Linked DNA regions of Homo sapiens: region 2 is linked to region 1. Evidence: fine-mapped expression QTL. Tissue or cell type: testis. Region 1 holds a variant in brackets; the other region holds the start of a gene. All regions are shown on one strand. Distances are from middle to middle.

Region 1 (5,191 bases):
AGGAGGGGGAGGGGAGAGAGGGGGGAGGGGACACAGGAGATGGGGAGGGGACAAAGGAGAGGGCTCCCAATGGTTTAGTGAGCTCTGTTGGGGGTAGGGATGTAGGGATAAGACATGGACTCCCAGAAAGGGCGGGGACTGGCCTGCCACACCTGAAACAATGAGAGTAGGAAGTGACGCTGGGTGTCCGTAGGTGTCAGGCCACAGGCACAGACTCCAACAAGCCATAGGATGTCACAAGTAGGGACTGAGGTGACTGAGCAAGGATTGGCCAAGGGACTCGGGAGGACAGATGCGAGGCCATTATGACAGCACAGCCTCTGAGGGGGTGGGCGTGTTCTTTTTCCCTGACACCCTTCCCCGTGGCCTCACAGTCTTAGCTGGAACAGCACCAAGTCCTGGGGAGTGGAGTCCAGGCCTTGGGTCTGGAAGAGTTGTCGAGCACGTGCCCTTCTGCAGAGGGCAACAGCTGGGGAGTTGGCTGGGCATCACCTTGGCACCTGGGGACACTCCTGGTTCCATTCTCGCTGTGCTAATCATCACCGTGGTCCTATCTCCACCATTGGCAGTGACTCTACTCTTGGCCAGCGTCTCCATGTGACAGCTGGGGTCTTGTTTAGCTGACCAGATGCCCTGGGTGGTAGATTGCCTGTGATGTCCAAGGGGTTATTGATACTTCTGGCCGAGGGCAGTGATTGCGGCATAATTTCTTGGGCTTCCCAGTTGCTTTTGGTGGCCAGAACTTCCCTGGAAGTGCCCTGGGAACAAGCCATTTGAATCCTGGATGGAAGCGCTGCATCCCCAGCTGGTTCCCATGGATCTCCATTACAGTGATGATAACAGAGGGCCGTTCATCATGTGCGCCCTCTGGCCCTGCATCCAGGTGGCCACACCAGGGTAGACAATCTTGGAATCATTACCAAGGCAGCCCTTCTCGTCCCTCACCTTGCCCACAGTGTTCCCAGGTGTGCACATCCGTGTAGGACAGAAATGGGCTGGTGCAGTTGCCAGATATCCACCTAATGGACCAGTGGCAGACATCACTAATCAATCATGCCTCTCTTCCCCTCAAGCCCAGATGAATGCTCATGATCTTTTTATATAGAGCCCTCCATCAGCCATGGCAAATTAACAGGAGTTGGCTCTTGGAGGCTGTTTATGATCTGTGACATTCATTCATTCATTCATGGATGCAGGCATCTAGTGAAACATTTGTTGAGTTGTTGTTATGAACCAGACACTGCTCAGTGTGAGGAAAAGAAGACATGGTCCCTGCCCAAGAGTTGCGCTGAGTATATGGACAGACATGCGAATGGCTGATGACTATATAATGCCGCTAGTTGGGAGCAGAGTTAGAACTCTGTTCTCCAGGAGCCAGAGGAGTCGGGTCCTAATTGCTGAGGGTGTCAGAGAAGGGCAGAAGCCTTTTGTGCTGGGTGGAATTGAGCTACCCTCTTCACCGTGTGCGCTGGCTGTGCTTAGCGGAGCCAACAGTGCATGGCGGGGCCTCATCTAAGTCTCTGGACAAAGCCCAGCCAGGAACAGCCTGGTGACTCGTCCTGACTGGCACCTTCTCTCTCGCAGGAGCAGGGGCTGAAGGCCAACAACTCCAAAGAGTTAAGCATGTGCTTCACAGAGGTGAGTTGGGGGCAGAGTGGGGATGGGTGCAGAAGGCTGGGCCGGTGGGGGGCGGCATTTCCCCGGCGAGCCTCAGATCCAGCGCCCTCAAATCTCATCGCATGGGCTGGGCCAGCTGAGCTTCTGGACCAGGGTGGGCACTTACTCTGCTGGGGTGGGGTGGGGGAGTGCGAAGGCTGCATCCAGGGCCCCTGGCTCTCTCCTTGGGGAGAGACAAATGGCTGCTCTGAGCAGAGGCCCTCCCATGCCTTCCTTACTCTCTTAAGACAGTTGTGTCGACCACCTGCTCGGCACTGTTGCTGTGATATTTAGGAGGCACAGAAGTGGAAACAGACACAGTTCTTCCCTTGAAGAAACCCCCACTATAGGAAATATATATATATATAAAAATAAATAAATATATATATAAATATATATATATCTCATATATATGACGTATATATAAATATATATATCTCATGTATATGACGTATATATATATATGACTTATAGACCCAAGACAGTAACTTAGATGAGAAGAAAAGGCAGTGTGAGACCTCACAGAAGAAAGAGAAACTCAGACAAAGATGTTCAGGGAGGGCTTCATGGAGGAGTGGGGATTGGAAGAAATTGAGAAACAGGGCGAATGTGGGCTCCCTTGTCTCCCCTCCCCTCCCCTTCCCTTCCTCTCTCCTTCCCCTCTCCTTCCTCTCTCCTCTCCTTCTTCTTCTCTCCTCCTTCTTCAGCTCTTTATACCATCTGCCTCCTCACTGGGACGCAGGTCCTCAGCCCTGATGCAGGGAGGAGTAGCCTGTTATCCTGGTGACCACTGCCCTCCTCTCCAAACCCCAGGGCTTGTGACCAGAAGGGACAGAGCATTCCCTTCTGCTCCTGCCTGGGCCAGCTCCGGGAGAGTCAGCGCTCCCTTCAGAGTGCAAAGGAGGGTCCCTGTGGGTGGAAGAGAGGACAGGGGCTTGAGGTGTCCAGTTCCTGAGTCCGTTTCTCTGCCGGGTCCCAGGCCTCCTGACTGTTTTCTTTGTTTTCATTCTCTTTGTTCCTGATTCTTCTCCTGCTGCGGACTCAGCTCACGACAAATATCATCCCAGGGAGTAACAAGGTGATCAAACCTAACTCAGGCCCCAGCAGAGCCAGACCGTCGGCTGCCTTGACCGTGCTGTCTGTCCTGATGCTGAAACTGGCCTTGTAGGCTGTGGGAACCGAGTCAGAA[T/G]ATTTTTGAAAGCTACGCAGACAAGAACAGCCGCCTGACGAAATGGAAACACACACAGACACACACACACCTTGCAAAAAAAAAATTGTTTTTCCCACCTTGTCGCTGAACCTGTCTCCTCCCAGGTTTCTTCTCTGGAGAAGTTTTTGTAAACCAAACAGACAAGCAGGCAGGCAGCCTGAGAGCTGGCCCAGGGGTCCCCTGGCAGGGGAAACTCTGGTGCCGGGGAGGGCACGAGGCTCTAGAAATGCCCTTCACTTTCTCCTGGTGTTTTTCTCTCTGGACCCTTCTGAAGCAGAGACCGGACAAGAGCCTGCAGCGGAAGGGACTCTGGGCTGTGCCTGAGGCTGGCTGGGGGCAGGACAACACAGCTGCTTCCCCAGGCTGCCCACTCTGGGGACCCGCTGGGGGCTGGCAGAGGGCATCGGTCAGCGGGGCAGCGGGGCTGGCCATGAGGGTCCACCTTCAGCCCTTTGGCTTCAAGGATGGAGATGGTTTTGCCCTCCCTCTCTGCCCTCGGGTGGGGCTGGTGGGTCTGCAGCTGGTGTGGGAACTTCCCCACGGATGGCGGTGGAGGGGGTTCGCACCGTGCTGGGCTCCCCCTGACTGTAGCACGGAGTGTTGGGGCTGGGGGCCAGCTCCAGGAGGGCTTGAGAGCTCAGCCTGCCTGGGAGAGCCCTTGTGGCGAGGCATTAAAACTTGGGCACCAGCTTCTTTCTCGGTGGCAGAAATTTTGAAGTCAGAGAGAAACGGTCCTTTGTTGGCTTCTTTGCTTTCTCGTGGGTCCTTTGGCAGGCCTCCCTTTGGGGAGAGGGAGGGGAGAGACCACAGCCGGGTGTGTGTCTGCAGCACCGTGGGCCCTCAAGCTTTCCTGCTGTCTTCTCCCTCCTCCTCCTTTCCCCTTTCTCTTTCCTCATTTCCTAGACGTACGTCAACTGTATGTACATACCGGGGCTCCTCTCCTAACATATATGTATATACACATCCATATACATATATTGTGTGGTTTCCCCTTTCTTTCCTTTTTTTAAGCAACAAAACTATGGAAATAATACCCCAACAGATGAGCGAAAATGTATTATTGTAAAGTTTATTTTTTTTAATACTGTTGTCTATAATGGGGAAAAAGGACATTGGCCCCGCAGTGCCCTGCCCCAGTCAGCCTGGCTGGGCTCTGGTGGGGGCTCCTGATCCGCATCCAAGCTTAACCAAGGCTCCAATAAACGTGCTAGGAAGCAAGCTGCCTCTGCCTCGGTCCCGTGGGGTTTTGCCCCCATTTTGTTCTTGGTCCAGTGTTACCTGCGTAAGTGGAGCTCCCAGTGGGCTGGGGAAATGTGTGTCCGTGTGTGTGCCTGTGTGCATGTGTGTGCATCCATGTGTCTCACCCATGTGTCCACATTGTGTGTAGATGGAGCTCTCTTAGGAGCTGGTTTGACACTGGGGGCGGGATCTGAGGGTCCACGCTGTGCTGAGCCTGGTGGGCTGTTCTGTTCCCTCTTTGCTCACTTCTCCAGTTGGCGCAAATGCCTGTGGCTCCCAGGCTGGAAGAGAATGCAGTGGACGTGGACGTGGTGGGGAGCCACAGCTTGGCATCACACGTTGGGAATGTTTTATTGTCAGGCTGTCTGGGTGGCCCTGTTAGTCTTACATAGAGCAAAGTGGTATGTCCCTCTGGGACTCCTGGCTTATTTGAGATGTGTGATTGTGAGTGCAGTGACCTGGCCTTTTGGGTCCCACCAGAGAAGAAGGACATGACTGTGCATGTTCTGGGGTCATGGTCTGAAAGCATAAGTATTTTTTGGGTCTCCCTCTATTCCTTCCTTTCCTGTTTCTCCATTTGCTACCCAGGCCCCACTTGGACACTAGGCCTGCCATAGTCTCCAAGAGAGATTCTCCCCAGAGAGGACCAGGAGAATGCCTGCTGGCCAAGTGTGTGTGTGTCCATGTATGTGAGCATGTGTACATGTGTGTGCGGTCGTGTGCAGGCTCGCACATGTTCACGTGCACGTGTGAATATATACCCATGGCAGGAGGGAGAATGGAAGACTGGTAGGCGAGAAGATGTTTCTACTGTCAGCCTGGCCTTCAGGGCTGCATGTGAGCCCATCCCATTTCAACTGGACAATAGGATGCAGTTTTCCCATCTCCCAATCGCAGGTCCCCTCAATGGCTTTTGCTTCTGGTTGTATATGTGTGAGCAGCATCCGTTCACAGCGTTTATCACTGTGGTGTATTGCCTTCCAGCCTCTGCATGGAAGGGGTACAGTGAGCCAGCCAGGTCTCTGTCCAGCCATTGCGGGTAGACGTGGTCATGGCATCCACTTAGGAATCCGTGTTCTTTGCAAA
Region 2 (5,128 bases), 96 kb before region 1:
ATCTGTGATGGGGAGGGGCTGTGGGCAGGAGGCTCAGCTGCTGGTGAACTCAGGAGCACTGGAATGAGCCAGGAAGGCTGTAAAAGGACTCAGGCACTACGGAATGTGTGGAAGTCTGTTGGTGAGCCTAGGGCTTGCCTCCTACCTGCTAGAGACTTCACATTTTCCTATGACTACCTCTTACGACAGCTGCTTAATAGTCTCTGTTGCCCTTGAACCCCTGTAGCTTTTTGTTTCTGCTTCTCATTTGCCCCTTAGGTTTTATTGCCTTGTCATAGGTCCCTAATTCTTCTTCTAGAACCCAGAGCAAAGCAGTAAACAACTTTATATGGGCCAGGCATTGTACTAGCCGCTTTGTGTAGTATCTTATGTAATTTCTACAACGTTGGTTTATCTTTTTTAATCCCCATTTTATAGATGAGATGACTGAGGTTCAGAAGTCCTCTTATCTATAAGGTGTTATAGTACATGTTCAACTGTGTTTCCTCTGTAGATCCCGGCACAAGGCAGGGGGTCTTCCTCATGGCAGATGCTCAGGAAATAAGGGATGATGCCATTTTTAAGAGCAGTTTGGGTTGAGTGTTGGGGTGGGCAGAGGGTGGGGTGTCATGGGATACGTCTGTATAGGCAGTAGGTAAGAGAGGGTCCAAGGTCAGAGTGCCCTGCAGTCACACAAGCTGAATGCTGGTGGTGACTGATTGGTGTTCTCTACTGTTCTTGGGATGGCTGGGTGGTCTTGGGTCGCAGAAGGGCCACTTACCTCCTGCTACCGGAATCCTCTTTCCTACTCCCGTGGGAGCTCAGTGAGAACCATCCCCAGGGCTTCATTGCTGCTTTCTCAGCCCCATTTTCTGGATAGGTGGGAGGGGAGAACTACATATATGATTCAGAGAATTTCTCTCATTATGCTCAAATGAAGTTAAAAGAAAGTGAAATTCTTTTTTGTGGGGAAGGGGAGAGGGATATGCTGAGCAGAAATTCTGGAGTTTGGAGCAGGGTCCTTGGAAGGGGGAAGGCCTGCGTGAGATTCCGAAATGGGTGGTGGTGGGGAGTATTTGGACAACCAGAAGACCCTGGAAGTCGAGGAGATGAGAGGGGGGACATTCATTTAGGCCAGGCTCCCAGCCTCGGGCCTCCAGGCCAAGCCTGCCTGGCAGTGTAATTCCTGTCAAGTTTTATCTTTTAACCTACACTTATCCAAAGCCGGTTCCTTATGCTCCCCAATTTTTGGAAAAAAAGCCAAGAGACCTTGTCAGATGCGAAGTCACTTCCTAGAACATGAGAGGCTTGGAGGAATGACAGGGAGGGCAGGCCTGAAGGGGGCTTTCCCCAACTCCAATCCCTAAGCCCTCTGTCCCAGACTCGTCACTACCCAGCTAGGGCCTAGGCTCGAAGCAGGCACAACTGGATGGCTGGGGGAGAAGATGGAGGGAGGAAGGTCGATGCCCCAGGACGGACCACAGGAAAGAGGCGTTCACAGGAGACTCGCTCTCTGTGCTTCCAAGGCCGGGAGCAGCCGCCTTCCCGCCTAAATCCTCAAGATGGAAGTTGCTCCCTCTAGCTTTCCCAATAGCTAAGGCTGCTGGTTTTGTTAGTGACCCCTCCCTTCTCGTCCAAGTCGATTTCTAGCATTTACTGGATTCCAGAGTCTTGTTATTTAAGAATGCATCTTAAACGGTACTATCAAATTCATGTTACGTGCAGCCCAGATTGTTTTGGGCAGCACGAAAAGTTTCTGAGGCGCTGCGTGTACCCCACCCCAGGACACCGTGTGTGCGCGCCGAGCTGAGTGCGAGGAACGTGGCGCGAGGGCCGGGGGATGCCGGGCTGCGTGGGTGTGAGCCCTCGCGCGACCGCGACCCCGCGCCTCTCCCGCTCTCGCCGGAACGTGACCGCAGCCGCACCTCTCCTCCAGCCCTTTCCCAGCCAGACGCTTCCTTTTAGGTCCTTCTGGGCGTTTATTGTAAATTCTGCGACTAAAACACGCCGGTGAGCCCGGCCCACCGACAGATGGATCAATCGCCCCCTTCCCGGCTAGGGGAGGAGGAACCCCCCAACCCCGGAGCCTAGGGAGCCGGGAGCTGCCTCGGGACGAGCTCCTCGGAGCCCAGCCGGCTGCGGAGCCCCGGCCCGGGTCGGTCTCGGGGCCCTCCTGCCGGGGTGGGGTGCGAGCCCCTGCCCGATTCCTCTGGGGCGGTTCAGGCAGGTTTGCCGGCCTCCGAGGAGGTGGTCAGGGCGCCCTGGCCCAGCAGGCTTCTTCCCGAGCCGGGGGGAGGGGAGACCGGCTGGGGAAGGGGCATCTCGAAGGGGTGGAGGCCGGGGCGGGCGGGAGGCAAGCGCGCCGCGGGCGTGAGGGCAAAGTTCCCGAGGTCCGCGCGGAGAGCACACGTGTATGTGCGCGCGGGGCTAGGCCGGGGCCGGCAGGATGCGTTGGGTTCGGGGGCGCGCGGGGCCGGCGCCGAAGGGGATAATTCCTTTCCCTGGCACCATCGGGGAGACGCTTTGTCGGCCTCGGCTCCTGGGCGCAGGGACGCCTTAGCCCACGGAGGGTGGAGCCCCCCTCAGACCCGGGCCACCGGCTGGGGTTTTTCTAACGCCCTGCCCCCCGAGCCCCCGGATGGCTCGGGCCCCACGGACTCCGCGCCCTCCAGCCTCAGCTCAGCTCCCCAGGCTTCCCAGACCCAGCGGCGCAGGGGGCGGGGGCAGGGGCAGTGGGGGTTGGAGGGCGCAGCCGGTCCCCAGGGTGGGGAGAGCTGCGGGGGGAGGAGGAGGAGGGTGCCGACGCTTGAGTGGGTTCGAGCCCGAGCCGTAGCCGGGGGAGCCAGTCAGTTTCCGGCCAAGGCAGCAGGTCAGTCCCAGGAAGGGCGGGCGATTGAGCCGAGGGAGCCGGCGGCTGGGCTCTCCTCTCGGCCCGCGATCCCCGGCGCCGCCGCCGCCGCCACCGCCACCGCCACCGCCTTCGCCTTGTCGCCGCCGCCGCTGCAGAGCATCGTAGCTCCGCCGCGCTCCCGCGCCCCGCGCCCCGCGCCGCCAGCCGCCTGGGAGCCCGAGCGCCGAGCCCGGGGCGGAGGAGAGGGGCGCTGGCGCGAGAGCCCGGGCGAGGGAGCCGCGAAGGGAGAAGGGGGCGGGCGGAGGGAGGAGCAGGGAGAGTGGGAGAAGGGGGAGGGAGAGAGGAGAGCGAGGGAGAGCTGGAGAGAGCGAGAGCAAAGAGCGAGCGAGGGAGAGGAGAGAGAGAGAGAGGAGAGAGAAAGACACACGCACGCAGAGACACACGGTCACTGGAATTCCATTAGAAAAAAGTGAGCCGAGCAAGGGTTAGCGGGAGAAGATTTTTTTGAATCTTGTCTTCGTCTTGGTGCGAAAGAAGCGACTCCAGTCTCTCGTCCTCGAAGCTCCGACTGGATTGTTCTTGGGCGCTGACACCCGTCTGTGGATTTCTTTTCTATTTGCATTTTATTCCGACCCCCTCCCTCGCCGCTTCCTTCCAGCCCTTCACTCGCAAATCGCCTCTCTCCCCACCTCCCCAGGCCCCTCCTGGGAAGCGCAGGGGAATTGGACCCGCGGGGACTCACGCCTTCCCGGACGATTGGAGGGGAGGGCTGACCCCAGGACTGGGCTGTTGGCTTAGAAAGCCGATACACAGATACGCGTATATTTGATTGTAGCGGGCAAGGGGGGCGTCGAGAGGCAGCAGCCCATCGCCCGCCTCTCACCCCACCCCCTCCAGCCAGAGGCGAGAATCGCAGGACTCGGGATCTTCATCGGGTGGACTAGCTGGGATCTCCGCATTGGATTTGGGGCTGATTACCACTGCTTGCCTATTATTATTGTTGTTGTTACTACTATTATTTTTTTTTACCCAAGGGAGAAAGACAAAAAAACGGTGGGATTTATTTAACATGATCTTGGCAAACGTCTTCTGCCTCTTCTTCTTTCTAGGTGAGTACCTGCGGGCGGCGAGCTCGAGGGGGAGGCGAGAAGCCGGGGAGGCGGGGGGCGAGCGGAGCGCCGGTGGGGGGCTGGCGGGAGGTCGGCGGGGAGAGCGCGCCGCGGAGCTAGCCGGGCCCGGTGCTGGCGAACCGAGCGGGGCCGGGCGGCAGGGACGCGGACGAGGGACCGGAGCCGCGGCTGGCTGGCGACGCAGGGGGATCGGGAGGGAGACTCAACATCCGAACCAGCCCCGCAGACACTGTGCACGCACACACACACCCGCGCTCGCTCACACGCCAGTATAGCGCGCATCTCCCCCGAAATAATGGGTTCGAATTGCGGCAACTTAAGAAAAAAAAATATCCAACTCTTGATCTGCAAGAAGGGAGGGAGAGAGAGGCTCCTAGGCGGGGAGAGAACAGTCCTGCGGGGTCCGCCTTTCCTGGTCTGCTCCCCGAGTCGGTCGTGGTGGAGGGCGCGGGTTTCTCCGGCGGCTCCCGCTTGGACATCGCGCGGGGAGCGCTGGCAGTCACTCCCCACCTGCCAGCCGCGCCTGGCAAACGGAGCCCGCGTCCCCACGCCCTGAGCCCCTAACCGGCGGCTCCACTCCCCGGAACACTTTTCAAGTTTCTCCCCACCGAGCCCCGAGCCAGATGGGTGGGCGGGAGCGGAGGGTTGTGAGCAGCCGTTCCCGGCCTTCCCTCCTCCACCTCTGGGGGCCGCGGACCCCCGTGGCTGGTGGGAAGAGGCGGGAGGGAGGCCAAAGTTTGCTTTCTCCGTTGAAGAGGGTGGGAGGCGAGGGAGGAAAAACGGGTCTGAACAAAGACCACTGCTCCTTCTGCAAACCCCCCCCACTGCCCCCCCCGCCGCCTCCAAGACAGGGAGGAGAGGCTGCCTGGCGCCACTGAGCCCCACGCAGTTTCTTTTCCACACAGAATTCCCAGCTCCTCTCTCCCTTTAAAGCTAGGTGAAATCGCAGCTGCTTGGGAAATGGCAATCTCCGGAGGGAGGTGAGGAAAGGCGGTTGTTTGCAAGGCTGTGCACCACCGGGAGTCCCAGGCAGGGCTGCTGCCAGGGAGTAGACGCTCCCATAGAGGGAGCCGGGTAACTACTGTGTATGTGTGTGTGTGTGTGAGTGTGTTTGTAAGGAGCACACGTCTGCTTCAGTGAGGGTGTAGTTCTACCACCTTGGCTTGCT

What was found. PIP is the estimated chance that this variant, and not a neighbour inherited with it, causes the effect.
Region 2: it holds the start of GFRA2, and the variant in region 1 is fine-mapped to the expression of GFRA2 in testis (GTEx, PIP 0.97). The same link has a PIP of 0.9 or more in thyroid and whole blood.

The regions. Positions count from the first base shown.
Region 1 is chr8:21,690,911-21,696,101 of GRCh38, reverse strand. GFRA2 (GDNF family receptor alpha 2) reads left to right here. Exons shown (of 9, transcript NM_001495.5): 8 at 1,585-1,638; 9 at 2,702-5,191. The coding sequence ends at 2,824. Among named protein-coding and RNA genes, the nearest start is that of GFRA2, 95 kb to the left of the region's middle. RefSeq lists an enhancer at 2,783-3,283. The variant T/G (reference allele first, on the strand shown) is at 2,846.
Region 2 is chr8:21,786,931-21,792,058 of GRCh38, reverse strand. It overlaps GFRA2 (GDNF family receptor alpha 2), which reads left to right and starts at 3,184. Exons shown (of 9, transcript NM_001495.5): 1 at 3,184-3,939. The coding sequence starts at 3,900.